Linked DNA regions of Homo sapiens. The protein of the gene in region 2 interacts with the protein of the main gene of each other region in a pairwise test. Each region holds a gene or a part of one and is shown on either strand. Other genes may lie near its edges.

Evidence for each region. Proteins that work in one complex are often made in the same cells at the same time.
Region 1: the proteins of LMBRD1 (region 2) and TCP11 interact in binary tests that used the Homo sapiens proteins (3 or more experiments, as listed by UniProt).

What each region holds. Positions count from the first base shown.
Region 1 is NC_000006.12:35,131,340-35,138,339, forward strand, and holds part of TCP11 (T-complex protein 11 homolog), read right to left. Parts: intron 6,514-7,000; exon of another isoform or gene 6,428-6,513; coding exon of another isoform or gene 6,352-6,427; intron 4,880-6,351; coding exon 4,768-4,879; intron 1-4,767. UniProt on the Homo sapiens protein: Plays a role in the process of sperm capacitation and acrosome reactions. Probable receptor for the putative fertilization-promoting peptide (FPP) at the sperm membrane that may modulate the activity of the adenylyl cyclase cAMP pathway.
Region 2 is NC_000006.12:69,674,453-69,682,764, reverse strand, and holds part of LMBRD1 (lysosomal cobalamin transport escort protein LMBD1), read left to right. Parts: intron 1-6,223; coding exon 6,224-6,315; intron 6,316-6,493; coding exon 6,494-6,607; 3' UTR 6,608-8,312. UniProt on the Homo sapiens protein: Lysosomal membrane chaperone required to export cobalamin (vitamin B12) from the lysosome to the cytosol, allowing its conversion to cofactors. Targets ABCD4 transporter from the endoplasmic reticulum to the lysosome.

The sequences.
Region 1 (7,000 bases), about 35 Mb from region 2:
GGCGGATCACCTGAGGCCAGGAGTTCGAGACCGGCCTGGCCAATATGGCAAAACCCTGTCTCTGCTAAAAATACAAATATTAGCAGGGTGTGGTGGCACACACCTATAATCCCAGCTACTTGGGAGGCTGAGGCAGGAGAATCACTTGAAACTGAGAGGCGGAGGTTGCAGTGAGCCGAGATTGTGCCACCGCACTCCAGCCTGGGTGACACAGCAAAACTCCATCTCAAAAACAAACAAACAAACAAAAAAACACAATGAAAAAGAAAAGAAAAATAAGCCATCAAGCCACAAAAAAACATAAAGGAAACTTAAATGAAATTACTAAGTGAAACAACTAATCGGAACAGGGTCCATACTGTATGATTCCAACAATATGACTTCCTGGAAAAGTCCTCCTGAGCAGCGGGGTTTACAGCTGCCTCATTTTTAAAAAATGTTTAGTACAGACAGAGTTTTGCCATGTTGGCCAGGCTGGTCTCCAACTCCTAGTTGCAAGTGATCCACTCGCCTCGGCCTCCCAAAATGCTGGGATTACAGGGATGAACCACCGTGCCTGGCCCCCTCCTACCATCATCTCTTACAATTAACTAGTCTCCCTGCCTCTAGTCTTGTTCCTTTATAATCTGTTTTCCACACTGCCACCAATTCACTCTAAAAACAATGCTGTTTCTCAGATGCCATATTCAACATGATGTAATGCTTATTTAAAGTCCTTCGGGGGCTCCCCCATCACCAGCAAGATAAATGGCTTATGTTACCTTATATCATACTGCTCTGGCCTCTCTTTCCAATGTATTTTCTTCTACCTTGTAACACCTTGGGCTCAGCCATTGCAAGTCGCTTGTAAAGAACATACCATGTTCTACCACCATTCTCTGCCTCTGACATGTTGTCACCACTACCTGGTGCAACCTTTCACACCAAGACCACCTGGAAAGCACTTATTCAACATCCAAGACTCAAGTCTTCATAGGCCTAACCTTCCTCTGTAGGCAAATCTTCCCTGATCTTCCACAGGTAGCTGAACACTCTCATTAAACTCTATATATGCATAGCTACAAGTGAACTTATCAGTCTAATCAGTCATTTTCTATTATTCAACTGTCTCCCCTACAAAAGTTTCTTGACAGCAAAAACTGCCTTATCTATATCTCTATCCTTAGCACCCAGCATTTTGCCTGTGACATAATAAGGACTCAATAAATGCCTGGTAAATGAATATCTGAGAATGAAATTTCCCTTAGGAGCCTACAACTGTAATTAACATCATCCTATGAACCTAAGGTAAAGCCAACTGCCAATAATGAGTAACCTCAAACAATTTCAGCCTTTTTCCCGACATAATTTTTTATATCACCATACCTGGAAACCCAGTTCTGAATACTACTATTTCTCCGGCTTCATTTCTCCCTCTCTCGTTTCTTCTACCTGCCATACCCCTCTATCCCTCCATACGCCTGCAACTCCCTCACCACCACCCTATCACAGACCTCATTCTCCCAGTTTCAGTTTTCTCTCCTCCCCTGTGAGCAACAAACATCTCTAAACAGTGAGAGAGAAGCTGAGAGACCTGAGTTTGGTGAAAACCTGTTCCCAGCATGGAAACTTGCTAACATCAGTCAAGAACAAATCAAAGAAGCATGAAGACCAGAGGAGCAACATGTGATGGAGAAAGGCCCTTTAGTAACAGATACCCCACAATGGCCCTCTGACAAAAGCATTTAAGGACGCAAATGAATCACGAGTTGTTATTATTTGTCTTTTGGTGGAAAATTAGAACAATTTTATTTTTCAATTGTTTTTTCTTTTCTCAGCCTCATCTGTGATACAATATTTACAATCTTTTTTTTTAGAGACAGAGTCTTGCTCTGTTGCCTGGGCTGGAGTGCAGTAGCACTATCACAGCTTACTGCAGCCTTGACCTCCCAGGCTCAAGTAATCCTTCCACCCCAGTCTCCTGCATAGCTAGGACTACAGGCGTGCACCACCACATTTTGCTAATTAAAAAAAAATTTTTTTTTGTAGAGACGAGGTCTCACTATGTTGCCCAGGTTAGTCTTGAACTCTTGACCTCAAGCGATCCTCCCACCTCAGCCTCCCAAAGTGCCGGGATTACAGGCATGAGCCACTGTGCCTGACCAAGAACTGTTTTAAAATATAAAATCTGGGCCAGGTGTGGTGGCTCACGCCTGTAATCCTGGCACTTTGGGAGGCCAAGGCGGGTGGATCACGAGGTCAAGAGATCGAGACCACCCTGGCCAACATGGTGAAACCCCACCTCTGCTAAAAATACAAAAATTAACTGGGCATGGTGGCGCACACCTGTAGTCCCAGCTACTCAGGAGGCTGAGGCAAGAGAATCGCTTGAACCCGGGAGGCTGAGGTTGCAGCAAGCTGAGATCGCGCCACTGCACACCCCAGCTTGGCGACAAAGCGAGATTTCATCTCAGAAAAAAAAAAAAATCTGACACTGAAATTTACCCACTTAATTGTCAATAAACCAGCAGAGCCAATTCAATTCATACTTACTGAATGGTTCTTCTTTACCACAATGTCAATATAACTAAGAATAATACAAATAAAGCCTGGTGTGGGTATGGAAGCATTCTTTATCAACAGTGTTCAGATTTTGATAAATAAGCTGAGTTATGAAGCTGGGGGAAAAAAAATCCCAAGAGTCAAAACACCACTAACAGAAAATCTTTATCTGTGCCTGTTTAGTATGAAGCCACTTAAAAGGGTAGCTGATAGGAGCTATATGGTAGGCAGCTGACAAGATAACCCCAAAGATCTCTGCTTCCTGATACAGTCATCCCTTGGTATCCAAGAGGGATTGGTTCCAGGATCCCCCTCGGAAATTCATGGATGCTCAAGTCCCTGATACAAAATGGCATAGTATCGCATATAACCTATGCACATCCACCCATAAGCTTTTTTTTTTTTTTTTTTTTTGGTTTTGTTTTGAGATGGAGTCTCAAAACAGGCTGGAGTGCAGTGGCGTGATCTTGGCTCACTGCAACCTCTGCCTCCTGGGTTCAAGCAATTCTCCTGCCTCAGCCTCCTGAGTAGCTGAGACTACAGGCTCGCACCACCATGCCTGGCTAATTTTTGTATTCTCAGTAGAGACAGGGTTTCACCATGTTGGCCAGGATGGTCTTGATCTCTTGACCTCGTGATCCACCCGCCTTTGCCTCCCAAAGTGCTAGGATTACAGGCGTGAGCCACTGCGCCTGGCCCCATAAACTTTAAATCATCCCTAGATTACTTAAATATCTAATTCAATGTAAACGCTATGTAAGTAGTTGTTATACCATATTGGTTTTTAATTTTGTATTATTTTGTATTTTTTATTATTGTGTTATTTTTTATTTTTCTAATATTTTCTATATGCACTTGGTTGAATTCACGGGATGCAGAGCCCACAGATATAAGGGCCAACTGTATTCACATCTTTGTGGAAACCTCTTCCCTTGAGGGTGGGCAGGATGTAATGACTCATTTATAGCAAACAGAATGTAGCAGAAGCGGGCCGGGTACGGTGGCTCACGCCTGTAATGCCAGCACTTTGGGAGGACAAGGCGGATCACCTGAGGTTGGGTGTTCGAGACCAGACTGACCAACATGGAGAAACCCCATCTCCACTAAAAATACAAAATTAGCTAGGCGTGGTGGTGCATGCCTGTAATCCCAGCTACTTGGGAGGCTGAGGCAGGATAATTGCTTGAACCTGGGAGGCAGAGGTTGCAGTGAGCCGAGATCGCGCCATTGCACTCCAGCCTGGGCAACAAGAGCAAAACTCCATCTCAAAAAAAAAAAAAAAAGAATGTAGCAGAAACAATGGGATGTCACTTCTGAGATCAGGTAACAAAAAGACTGGCTTCTGTCATGGGCACCATCTCTCACACACACTCTTGTTCTCTCCCTTGGAGGAAAGCCAGCTGCCATGTTTAGTATACATATATACACCATGTTTAGTATATAATATATAGTACATTATATATAGCTGCCCTATAGTAAATTCCATGTGGCAAATTGAGGGAGCCTCTGGCCAAGAGTCAGCAGACTGACTACAACTCATGAAAGACTATAAGCCCGAGGTATACAGTTAAACCATGCCCATATCTCTCATCCACAGAAACTGTGACATAATGAATATTATTTTGCTGGGCACAGTGGCTCATGCCTGTAATCCCAGCACTTTGGGAAGCTGAGGTGGGAGGACTGCTTGAGCCTAGGAGTTCAAGACAACCCTGGGCAACACAGTGAGACCCCATCTCTAAAAAAAAAAAAAAAAAAATCGAAAAATGAGGTAGGAGGATCACTTGAGCCCAGGAGGCCATGACCATACTACTGCATACCTGCCTAGGTAACAGAGTGAGACCCTGCCTCCAAAAAAATAAAAACAACCAAAACGGAAAAATGAAATGTTATTTTAAGCTGCTAAATTTTGGGGTAATTTGTTATGCAGCAGCAGATAGTACTACAGGCTGCTTCCTCCAAGTTTGTCAGAGATCTGAAATCCACCATATTTATTCCAACAAGTGTTGCTTTGGTTTATTTGTTGACTAAGTAACATTTGCTTCTTGGCCTTCTTTGGTACTAATAATTACAACTTAGTACTCTTCTGTTTAAGTTGTTGAGACCTCTCAAGTTTAAATACTCATTGTATCATTAAATAAAAATGCTTCAAGTCTGATCTGAAGCCATCAGTGCTAAGTACCTAAGCCAGGATGAGCAACATGAAGAAAGAAGAAGAGTCTATACCTGCTTGGAGGTAAAACCTTCTCTTCCATGTAGTAATCACAATTCATCCCAATCTTGTTGCTCAGCTTGGAAACTTCATTAACGGTTTCTGTCAGACCTGTGACAGAAAGAACTGATGGTGGACAACAATGAGCCCATGCAAGTCTGAATTTCTATTTTATTCAGAGATTCACTCAATCTAGTAGGCCCCAAATTTAGATTAATCAAACTGGTCTTACACAGACTCACCCAACTATTCTAGTGATTTATGTTTTCTGCACTCTATGCCCCACGACAGTGCTAGAAACTTTCAGAATAGTAGTCTAACACTGGGGGAAGGCAGGACAAATAGCTAGTTTATAAAAAAAAGCAGGAAGTGAAACAGATGAAAAACTTTTCTCTTAAAAAGTAAAATCGTATTTATAGCAGCAAAGAAACAATAATTTGAAATTTGCAAAAATAAACATTCATCTAAGTATTAAGGTTCCACGTTCCTTTTCCTGTCTCTGATGCTATACATGATGAAAGCTAAACTCTCCCTACAGATAATACTCAGATGTTACTGAATAGTGCCAAAGTCATTTGGTCTTCTAAAGCGGTAGTTCTCAGATTTTAGGAATTCACAGACTAATAAAATTTCTGAAAATATTTTAAGCAACTGAAAACAACTTGCCAACTTTTTGTTTTGCCTAGTATGGACAGTGAAACAAGCAAATAAAAATCATCTACCACCACCAAAATCATCATTTCATCAAAGAAAAGATAGCTTAACCTCTGAAAAAAACCAGAAAGGAAATATTGTCAAAATAAACAGCAGTCCCTTAAATGGAATTAACTTTAGGAAAACTCATTACAATATCTTTATGATTTCATTTCACTAAATAGTGCTAAGAATTTTGTCACAGACCAGCATGGGTATTTGGCAACCACTGTTCTAAGTTTTTAACAAATAGCTAGTTTATAAAAAAAAGCAGGAAGTGAAACAGATGAAAAACTTTTCTCTTAAAAAGTAAAATCGTATTTATAGCAGCAAAGAAACAATAATTTGAAATTTGCAAAAATAAACATTTATCTAAGTATTAAGGTTCCACGTTCCTTTTCCTGTCTCTGATGCTATACATGATGAAAGCTAAACTCTCCCTACAGATAATACTCAGATGTTACTGAATAGTGCCAAAGTCATTTGGTCTTCTAAAGCGGTAGTTCTCAGATTTTAGGAATTCACAGACTAATAAAATTTCTGAAAATATTTTAAGCAACTGAAAACAACTTGCCAACTTTTTGTTTTGCCTAGTATGGACAGTGAAACAAGCAAATAAAAATCATCTACCACCACCAAAATCATCATTTCATCAAAGAAAAGATAGCTTAACCTCTGAAAAAAACCAGAAAGGAAATATTGTCAAAATAAACAGCAGTCCCTTAAATGGAATTAACTTTAGGAAAACTCATTACAATATCTTTATGATTTCATTTCACTAAATAGTGCTAAGAATTTTGTCACAGACCAGCATGGGTATTTGGCAACCACTGTTCTAAGTTTTTAGTGCAGACCTATAGTACAGCTGATAGCATTCACACATAATAGGTATATATGGTAGTTACAATGATTACGTGGTGTATAAAATGCAGCCGTATACAATAAATCATATTTTATCACTCTCTTTTGATGCAGCATCATGATTTTTCACAGAAAATTATTTGGCTCCAAGATGTGGAGGAGATGTAGATGAACAAAGATTGGCCACGAGTTGATCATTGTTGAAGCTGGATGATGGATAAATGGGGGCTCATTGTATTAGTCATTCTATTTCATAAATGTATAATTTTTCTATAGTAAAAAGATTTGAAAATGTAAAAAGGAAAAATAAGGTTACTGTAGAAAAGTTACACAGGAGAATGCCCCTGTTCTTAGATACATGATGAAATATTTAGAGGTAAAGTCATGACTTTGTATCTCACCCCAGTTAAAATGGCTTTTATCCAAAACTCAGGCAATAACAAACGCTGGTGAGGATGTGGAGGAAAGGGAACCCTCATACACTGTTGGTGGGAATGTAAATTAGTACAGCCACTATGGAGAATAGTTTGGAGGTTCCTCAAAAACCTAAAAATAGAGCTACCACATGATCCAGCAATCCCACTGCTGGGTATATACCCAAAAGAAAGGAAATCAATCTATCGAAGAGATATCTGCACTCCCATGTTTATTTCAGCACTATTTATGATAGCCAAGATTTGGAAGCAACCTGTG
Region 2 (8,312 bases):
CTCAGTTTTCTGTCTTTAATATTTTCTAGTATATCCGTTTAAACTACTTTTATTTTATCAAAAGTTAAAGTAATAGAAGACAATTGCTTTATATCTGACTATCCTTGGACAATTACAACCAGCAGATAGTAAGTCTCAGTAATTTAGAGTTCACTTATACAGATTGTGATTATACCATTTCTACATTTTATATGCTAATACTTACCTTGTACTCCCTTTTAATGAGTGTTATATGGCCAATTAGTAATAAAATGAAATTAGTAGCATTCTTTCTTAAAAGGCAAATATATATTTTAGCACCTTGGAAATGCTTTAAACTTATTTAAATATAACCAGAGCTCAACACAGATTATACTTGTTCTTAAAAATGGTTACTCTGAAACTTATTCTTAAGTGCAAAATATCTGGCAAATATCTTTATTAACCTGATACAGTTTGTGTATTCTTAAAGTATAAGAAAACTGTGTCCTTCAAAATTTCTGTGAGTTTTGACATTCATCAGTTCTCTTCCCCTTTACCTAAATCTCCCAGTGAGATTTAACAAAACATTGATTTAACTGTATGCCACTTGTTAAATTTTAATATAAATATACAACTTTGGTTTTTATTATATATCTTCATTTTTTCTGCCTTCCCATTTATTTGGATGTATTTCATTAGTTTCCGAAATCTTTTTACGTGTATGTATTCCATCTGACGATAAAACATTAGGATTTTAAATCCTAAAAATCTCACAGATCCCAACTTTTTTCTTCCCATCCCTGAGCTCATTTTTTCCAGTTGTATAGTCTTCTAACTTGGTAAACCTCTTTCTACTTTCAATCTCCTCTTCTAGTCTGTACTCCACTCTTGTTATTCTTTCTTAAAACCATTTTATAAATAATTTCAAATCATATCACAATAAAATCCAAGCTCCTTAGCCTGTATACAGTTAAGATATATATGTTCATTATAAATATTCAATAGTAGCAAGACCCTAATCAGGAACCAATTGGCACAGTCATGGGCAGCCAAGAGCTATGAAGTGGCTTCTAAATAGTCTAGGCTTCTAAGTTTTTTTGGTCACTAGTCAAATAAATTGCTTGTTTTAAAATTATTCTCCATGTTACATGAGTGTTCTCAAATGTCTTCTATATATATACACGTAAAATAAGGCTTTGTTTTATAAAATGCAAATATAGAGTAATTAATTATAAATTGATTTCAAGTGAAGGTTTAACATGATGACTCAGTTGTGGCTTAAACATTAAATGTTTTTAAAATATGTATTTAAAATAAAAGGTATTATTTATTCTACTTAACCAAAGTTATCTTAGTGGCAGTCAAGATACATTAAAAGTGACATAACAAAGGAAACAGGAAATATATAATATAAAATTTATCAGATAAATCCTTAAAGACTGCTGTTAAATTACAAAAAAAATGGTGTACTTGCATTTCCTGTTATTTCTCTGTTTGATGATATGTGAGAAGAGATGAAGGAATGGTGGTAGTAGCAGGATTCAAAAGTCTTGATTTTATTCATATGCTTCAGATGCCCCTTTTTGGCCCTTTGAATTCTTTTTTGTATGGCCACTTTCTCATCAGAAAAAAAAATTATCTGAGCCCCCCTCCCCCATGTTTAGTGTTCATTGTTAACATCTAATCTTTAGTTTAATTGGAAGTTTAATCTTTAATTCAATTATATTTTCTTTTGAGGAACAACAGTCAGAAGTTTCTGGAATACTTCTGATTTTAGAACACAATTCCTAAATGAAATATCCAACAGTTTAAATTTACTTTGAAGGTAAAACCAAATTCAGAACCTTTATTGTGATTTTCTTAGTTGGATAATTATAGAAAGAAATCTATATATCTCCTAGATATCTGTGATTCAGGTGAGCAGCTGGAAGATGGCAGATGGTGAAGAACGGCACTCCCCTCCATTTATTCAGGGTGGAATTGTCACTTGAATAGGAAATATATGCATGCATCTTATTAGCAAAAATTTTTATATGGGTATATCCCAGTTAATAGAAATAAAATGATATATATGTATAAAGATGCATATAAAGAGCTGTTACTTATTGTGTGTGTGGATTTTTAGCCTTCTATCATTTTTCAACAACAACGCAGAATGATGATACATTTTTATGGTATTTTAAAAGGCTTCTGTCAAAGTCCACAACCTTTTAAAAAGGTAAACATGTAAAATAATGTGATCAAAAAAATATTTAAGATATGGTTTTGGTGGTGGGCAAGAGTCAGAGAGTATAAGCCAATTTAAAATGTCACTAAGTGGATTATTAGATGTCTGGAGAAGAATGATTTGATTTATCTTGCTTCTGCCAGCTCAGCCTCTGTTTTGTTAGCCCTGTTCTGGCCCTGAAATTTCTAATTTTGTCAAGTTCTGACTCCCAAAATATCATAAGTATGGAAATGAGTGAAATAACTTTTATTTTTTAAGTTTACAGCATTAGCAGTATTGAGAAAGTTGAGTTTTTCACAGGCTTATACTTGTAAAATGAAGCTAAAGTAATACTTAAACCATGAATGATACCATTCTTGTTTTTAAAATAATTATGAACAGGCATTTTTTGGGTAGGTCCAAGCCTACCCTGCTCTTCATTTTTGAAACATTCAAATTGGTTATTTAAAGGTATATTTAGCAGTGTATGCTGATACTGATTATACAAATTTGAATTTTGCCAAATCCATTTGTGTCTGTTTCAACTGTAGAGACAGAAAAATAATGGGCATGCACAGAGTAGTCATGATATTAATGACTAACCAATTATTTTCCTACTGTTGGACATGCGTGTCTGAAATCTTAAGACTTGCAACCATTTGAGTAGCTCTTCACAATTGTTCTCTATACCTTGCAGAGGAAAAAGGAAGAAAATTAATATTAAGCGCCACTTTGCCTGGGGCTTTTGATGTATATGTCATATGATCTTTATAGCAATTCTGTGAGGAAAGATGGTGATATCCCCTTTTTATAAGTCCACAGGCTCCACAGTTCAGATTTGCCTGTACACATGGCAAAAAAGTGACCAAATGCTATTCACCTCCAAGTCTGTCAGAGTCCGGAGCCTGGGCTCTTCGTTCACCATGCTGGACATTTTAGTTATGCTTTAATTTCAAGATATATTCAATTTTCTCATTTTTATACCCTTGGAATCTTGTCAGATTTCAATTTTTAAAAATTAGAAAATGGGCTATTTAATTAATATAAATTTAAAATATCCCCTTTTAACGTCAACAGTCATTGAATATGAATGGATTTGAGTACTCCAATGGTATTTTAGGATACTCAGTATATCTACTGGAAAAAAAATGACAAATTGAATAGCTATATCACTGTGAAGTAAGTTCTGTAATAAAAGTGAGAATAAAATGTGGTGGGAGCACGAAGTAAATGACAAATTTTCTATCCAGGAGTCTCTGCTGTGAGTCTGAACTCCCAGCACCTAGTGTAAAGCTGTACTCATCTATGGTAACTATAGGAGACAGAAATATGTCCAGCTAATGCTGCTTAAAGGCTTTCTGGTTTTCTTAGAAAACTGTGAATATTCATTCTAGACTTTTCTGTTGATAAAGAGAAGAAAGACTCTGAAGGGAGCTTTTGGGGGCTCAATAGATAGGAATTAGATTGGTAGTCCTTGCTCCTAAAAGGAAGAAGTTGCTTCTTTATTAAACTGTGTGATTTTTTTTGTTTGTTTGTTTTTGTTTTTTTTTTTTTGTTTTAACCAGAAAGAGACAGGTTTGTTCAGTTTGGTATTGAGCAATTCAGAAGTAAATGTTGAAGTACAGTGGAAGGGTTTAGAGTAGATAAAATTTAGATTATCTAAATCTTTACATCACATATCTGAAGCTTTATGTAACAAGTCTTATATGTTGATAAAATATAACTTTAATGCTATTTTTGGAAAACCATGTGACAGGAACAAAAAAAGTGTTATTAGATCCCTTATGTAATAAGCTGGACTATGTAGCCCTCAGCTCAATTTTATGTTTTGAGAGAAAAGAACACTTACTTATTGAAGCTGAGAAGAGAGCTCAGAAAAATAGAACTAAAGGTGTATTTTCTTGATTAACAATAGGATATGAGATTGGTCTTCTAATTGCATGTAGGATCTTTTTGCCATTGTCCATTTTGAATAAAAATATGTAGAAATTATAATTTATTTTGTAATTAACAGACTGAAAAGAAGTAGGCCTTCTGAAATTTGTGAGGTTAGTATCCTCTATTAGATGCAGCATATATAATTTTACACTCAATTACATAATGTAGTTGACCCTTGAACAACACAAGTTTGAACTGCATGGGTTCACTTATGCCAGATTTTTTTTCAATAAAAGTTTCAGTTGCCTCTCCTGCCTCCTATTCTACTTCCTTCACCTCTTCCACCTCTGCCACTTGAGACAGCAAGACCAACCCCTCCTCTTCCCCATCCTTCCCCTTCCCATCAGCCAATTCAATGTAAAGACAATGAGGATAAAGACCTTTATGATAATCTACTTCCACTTAATAGTAAATATATTTTCACTTTTTATGATTTTCTTAATAACATTTTCTTTTCTTTAGCTTACTTTATTGTAAGATCATAGTATGTAATATACATAACATACAAAATATGTGTCAATCTATAGTTCGTGTTATCAGTAAGGCCTCCAGAAAACACCAGGCTATTTAGTAGTTACGTTTTGGAGAAGTCAAAAGTTATATGTGGATTTTTGATTGTGTGTGGTGGTTGGCAACTCTAACCTGTTTTGCTTGAGGGTCAACTGTACTGTGTTGCCACAGGCCTCTCTGAATGGCTTGAATATGTGTAGATGACTTTGCAACTAATGGAAATAATGTATTTGTACAAAACTAATATGGGGTTTACACAAATATCAAATAACCAGTCTGCTACTTTCTCTTTGAGAGTTACATTTTATTTGAAGGAGAAAAATATATGATTTATTTTTAATTACATCTATAATGCCGTCTAAAGTTCAAACAGGAATCACATCAGTAAATAATGATTTTCCTATTTCTTTAGAAGTAGTAGTCATCCATTCAATAGCAGTCATAAAAAGATAAAAGCTGAAAGAAACCTCTCAAGCTTGAGCTGCCGTGAGAATTGGTTTCTTAGAAAAGTGTGTTGGGGATAAGAAAATGATAGCACACACTGTAACATGCTAAGTACTTTGAACTGAAGGATATTGGAAGACCCCCAGAAGCAAAGTATCCTTTCAACCTTCCCTTGCCCTTCTTTCTTCTGTTCCCCTTTCTCTCCCAAGGCAGACCATAGAAACTGGAACTTCTCTTCCCCCAACCATGTCATAGAAATTAGAACCCCACTTTTCCAAAGCCAGCCATAAACCTAGAAATATTATTCTAACCTTCCCCTGCCTTTCTATGTAGGAGCTGGCCATAAAGAAATTCTATGACCTACCTTGTCTAATAGTAGGTCATAAGACCCTCATTCCAAAAGGAGTTCTGCCCTATACCTTGAAGGAGGGGATGCTGTGTAGAAAGACCAGGAAGAATCTGAACATACAGACCTTGCTGGCTTTCCCCGCTCAGTCTGTTACCATTTGGTTATACACTTTTGTCCAATTACTCTCTATTCTTAGCTCTTAGCTCTCCATTCTTCATTGACGAAGCTTGAAAATACACAGTTTTCCCTTGAGTCTTCATTTCTGAAGCCTCCTGTGTCATGTAAAACTGACTAAATAAATTTGTTATGCTTTTCTCTTGTTAACCTGTCTTCTGTTATAGGAGTGTTGACCGTGAAACTTACAATGGGTGAGGAAAGGTATTAGACCTTTCTGCCCCTACAAGTGCAACTTAATACTGACCACATCTGATTACTTTGTTCTTTCTTCTTGATGTTCATCAGGAAAACTTTTTTTTTGTTTTATGATATGTCTGACACTCCAAGTAAAAATGATTCTTCTATTTCCAGTAAAGCAAACTAGTCAAGATGATTTTTTTATACTTAAGATCTGGATTGCATTGGTGGCATTCATTTTTTTTTTAATATGTCATATTAATTGGCAGTTTTTAACACTACATTAAGGTGATTGAAAGAGTGGGCTTTGGAGAGAGACCTAAGTTTCAGTACCATCTCTGACACTTACTAGCCATATGATCTTAGTCATTAGCTTTGGTTAATAATCTTTTAGAGAAAGTATTAATCATCAATTTTATGAAAGAACCTATCTCACCATAGTCTTTTATTTGCTTTCACAGATCAGTGTACTGTTACCCGGACATACCTATTCCTTCACAAGTTCTGGTTCTTCAGTGCTGCTTACTATTTTGGTAACTGGGCCTTTCTTGGGGTAAGTGCAGATATCCCACGCGTGATTTGACCTTCCTTTATAAATTATAGTTAAATGTGTAAACTCTTTTTATCTTACTAGGCCATTTGTATCATAGTACTGTCATTGAATTTTAAAGCATTACTTTCCAGATGATTTTAAATTTGAAAAATAACACATGGCTTATTTAAATTTACAGGTATTTTTGATTGGATTAATTGTATCCTGTTGTAAAGGGAAGAAATCGGTTATTGAAGGAGTAGATGAAGATTCAGACATAAGTGATGATGAGCCCTCTGTCTATTCTGCTTGACAGCCTTCTGTCTTAAAGGTTTTATAATGCTGACTGAATATCTGTTATGCATTTTTAAAGTATTAAACTAACATTAGGATTTGCTAACTAGCTTTCATCAAAAATGGGAGCATGGCTATAAGACAACTATATTTTATTATATGTTTTCTGAAGTAACATTGTATCATAGATTAACATTTTAAATTACCATAATCATGCTATGTAAATATAAGACTACTGGCTTTGTGAGGGAATGTTTGTGCAAAATTTTTTCCTCTAATGTATAATAGTGTTAAATTGATTAAAAATCTTCCAGAATTAATATTCCCTTTTGTCACTTTTTGAAAACATAATAAATCATCTGTATCTGTGCCTTAGGTTCTCCAGAGTGATGTGGAATTTTAAAGTGTCTCTCTCTGATTGCCTCCAAATAATATTTACAATATAGCTGATGAATGTTACTCCCATATGCAAATTGTTTTCAGTTTTCTGCATAAAATCTTTAGCACCACTCAAGTAGATTTCATGAAAAGATTTCAAACTCTAGTTAGTGCTCTAAGAGCATGGCGTTCCAAGATGTGTTATATTGTTCAAATATCAGTCCATTAGATAACTTACAACCTCTACAGTATTTAAGGCATACATATTGTTATAGGTAGCTTTTGTTTTGCATCTGACCTCAAAATGTGTATTTCAATATAAATAGGGGTATTGTCAAGAATAATTAATCCTGGAAAAAAAAATCAGTTTATGGATTAATTTAAGATATATGGCATCATATTTTGGTTTTAGAGATAATTTTTCATTCTAAAGATTTGAAATTTGCAAAAGATGTAATGAAAGCTGTATGACATCAGTAGGGTATTTTGAACACATTCTGGATAGTGAGAAATAATAAAAAATTATATTCTAGTTTACTAACATAAGCACATTAGAACTCATAAAAAAGTATATATCATGATCCTTGAGGTAAAATATCATTAAGTTTCTGAAAAAAAGTTTAGGAATTAACAACTATATCTAAGTTAATTATTCTCTCCCTTAATTTTTGTGCCATTTTTCTCTGTTCTGATTCTTCATCTCTCTTGATAAACCTTCACAGCTTTCGTATTTGGCTTCTGCTTCTGCAACTACCCTTTAGCATTATTCACCAGGATTTCATTCCCTTCTGTTCTTATTTTACATTTTCTTTTTTCTTTTTTTTTAAGATGGAGTTTCACTCTTGTCGCCCAGGCTGGAGTGCAATGGCACGATCTCAGCTCACTGCAACCTCCCCTTCATGCATTCAAGCAATTCTCCTGCCTCAGCCTCCTGAGTAGCTGGGATTACAGGCATGTGCCACCATGCCTGGCTAGTTTTTGTATTTTTAGCAGAGATGGGGTTTCACCATCTTGGCCAGGCTGGTCTTGAACTCCTGACCTCATGATCCACCCACAGTGGCCTCCCAAAGTGCTGGGATTACAGGCATAAGCCACCACGCTCGGCCTTATATTACATTTTCTTTGTGGACAATCTCACATACCCTTGGCTTCTATCTATACTACTTGTTCTTAAGCTCTGAACTTTGAGTTATCTTTTAGCTAGAAATTACTGCTTCAACTGTAACATTTTGAAAATTGAAGTATTCACTTTTGTGGGGGCAAACTAAGCCTTCTTCTGCATTCATTTTTTTGACAAATGGCACCGCAGACACTTGATTGCCTAAACAAAGAATCAGGTAGATCTC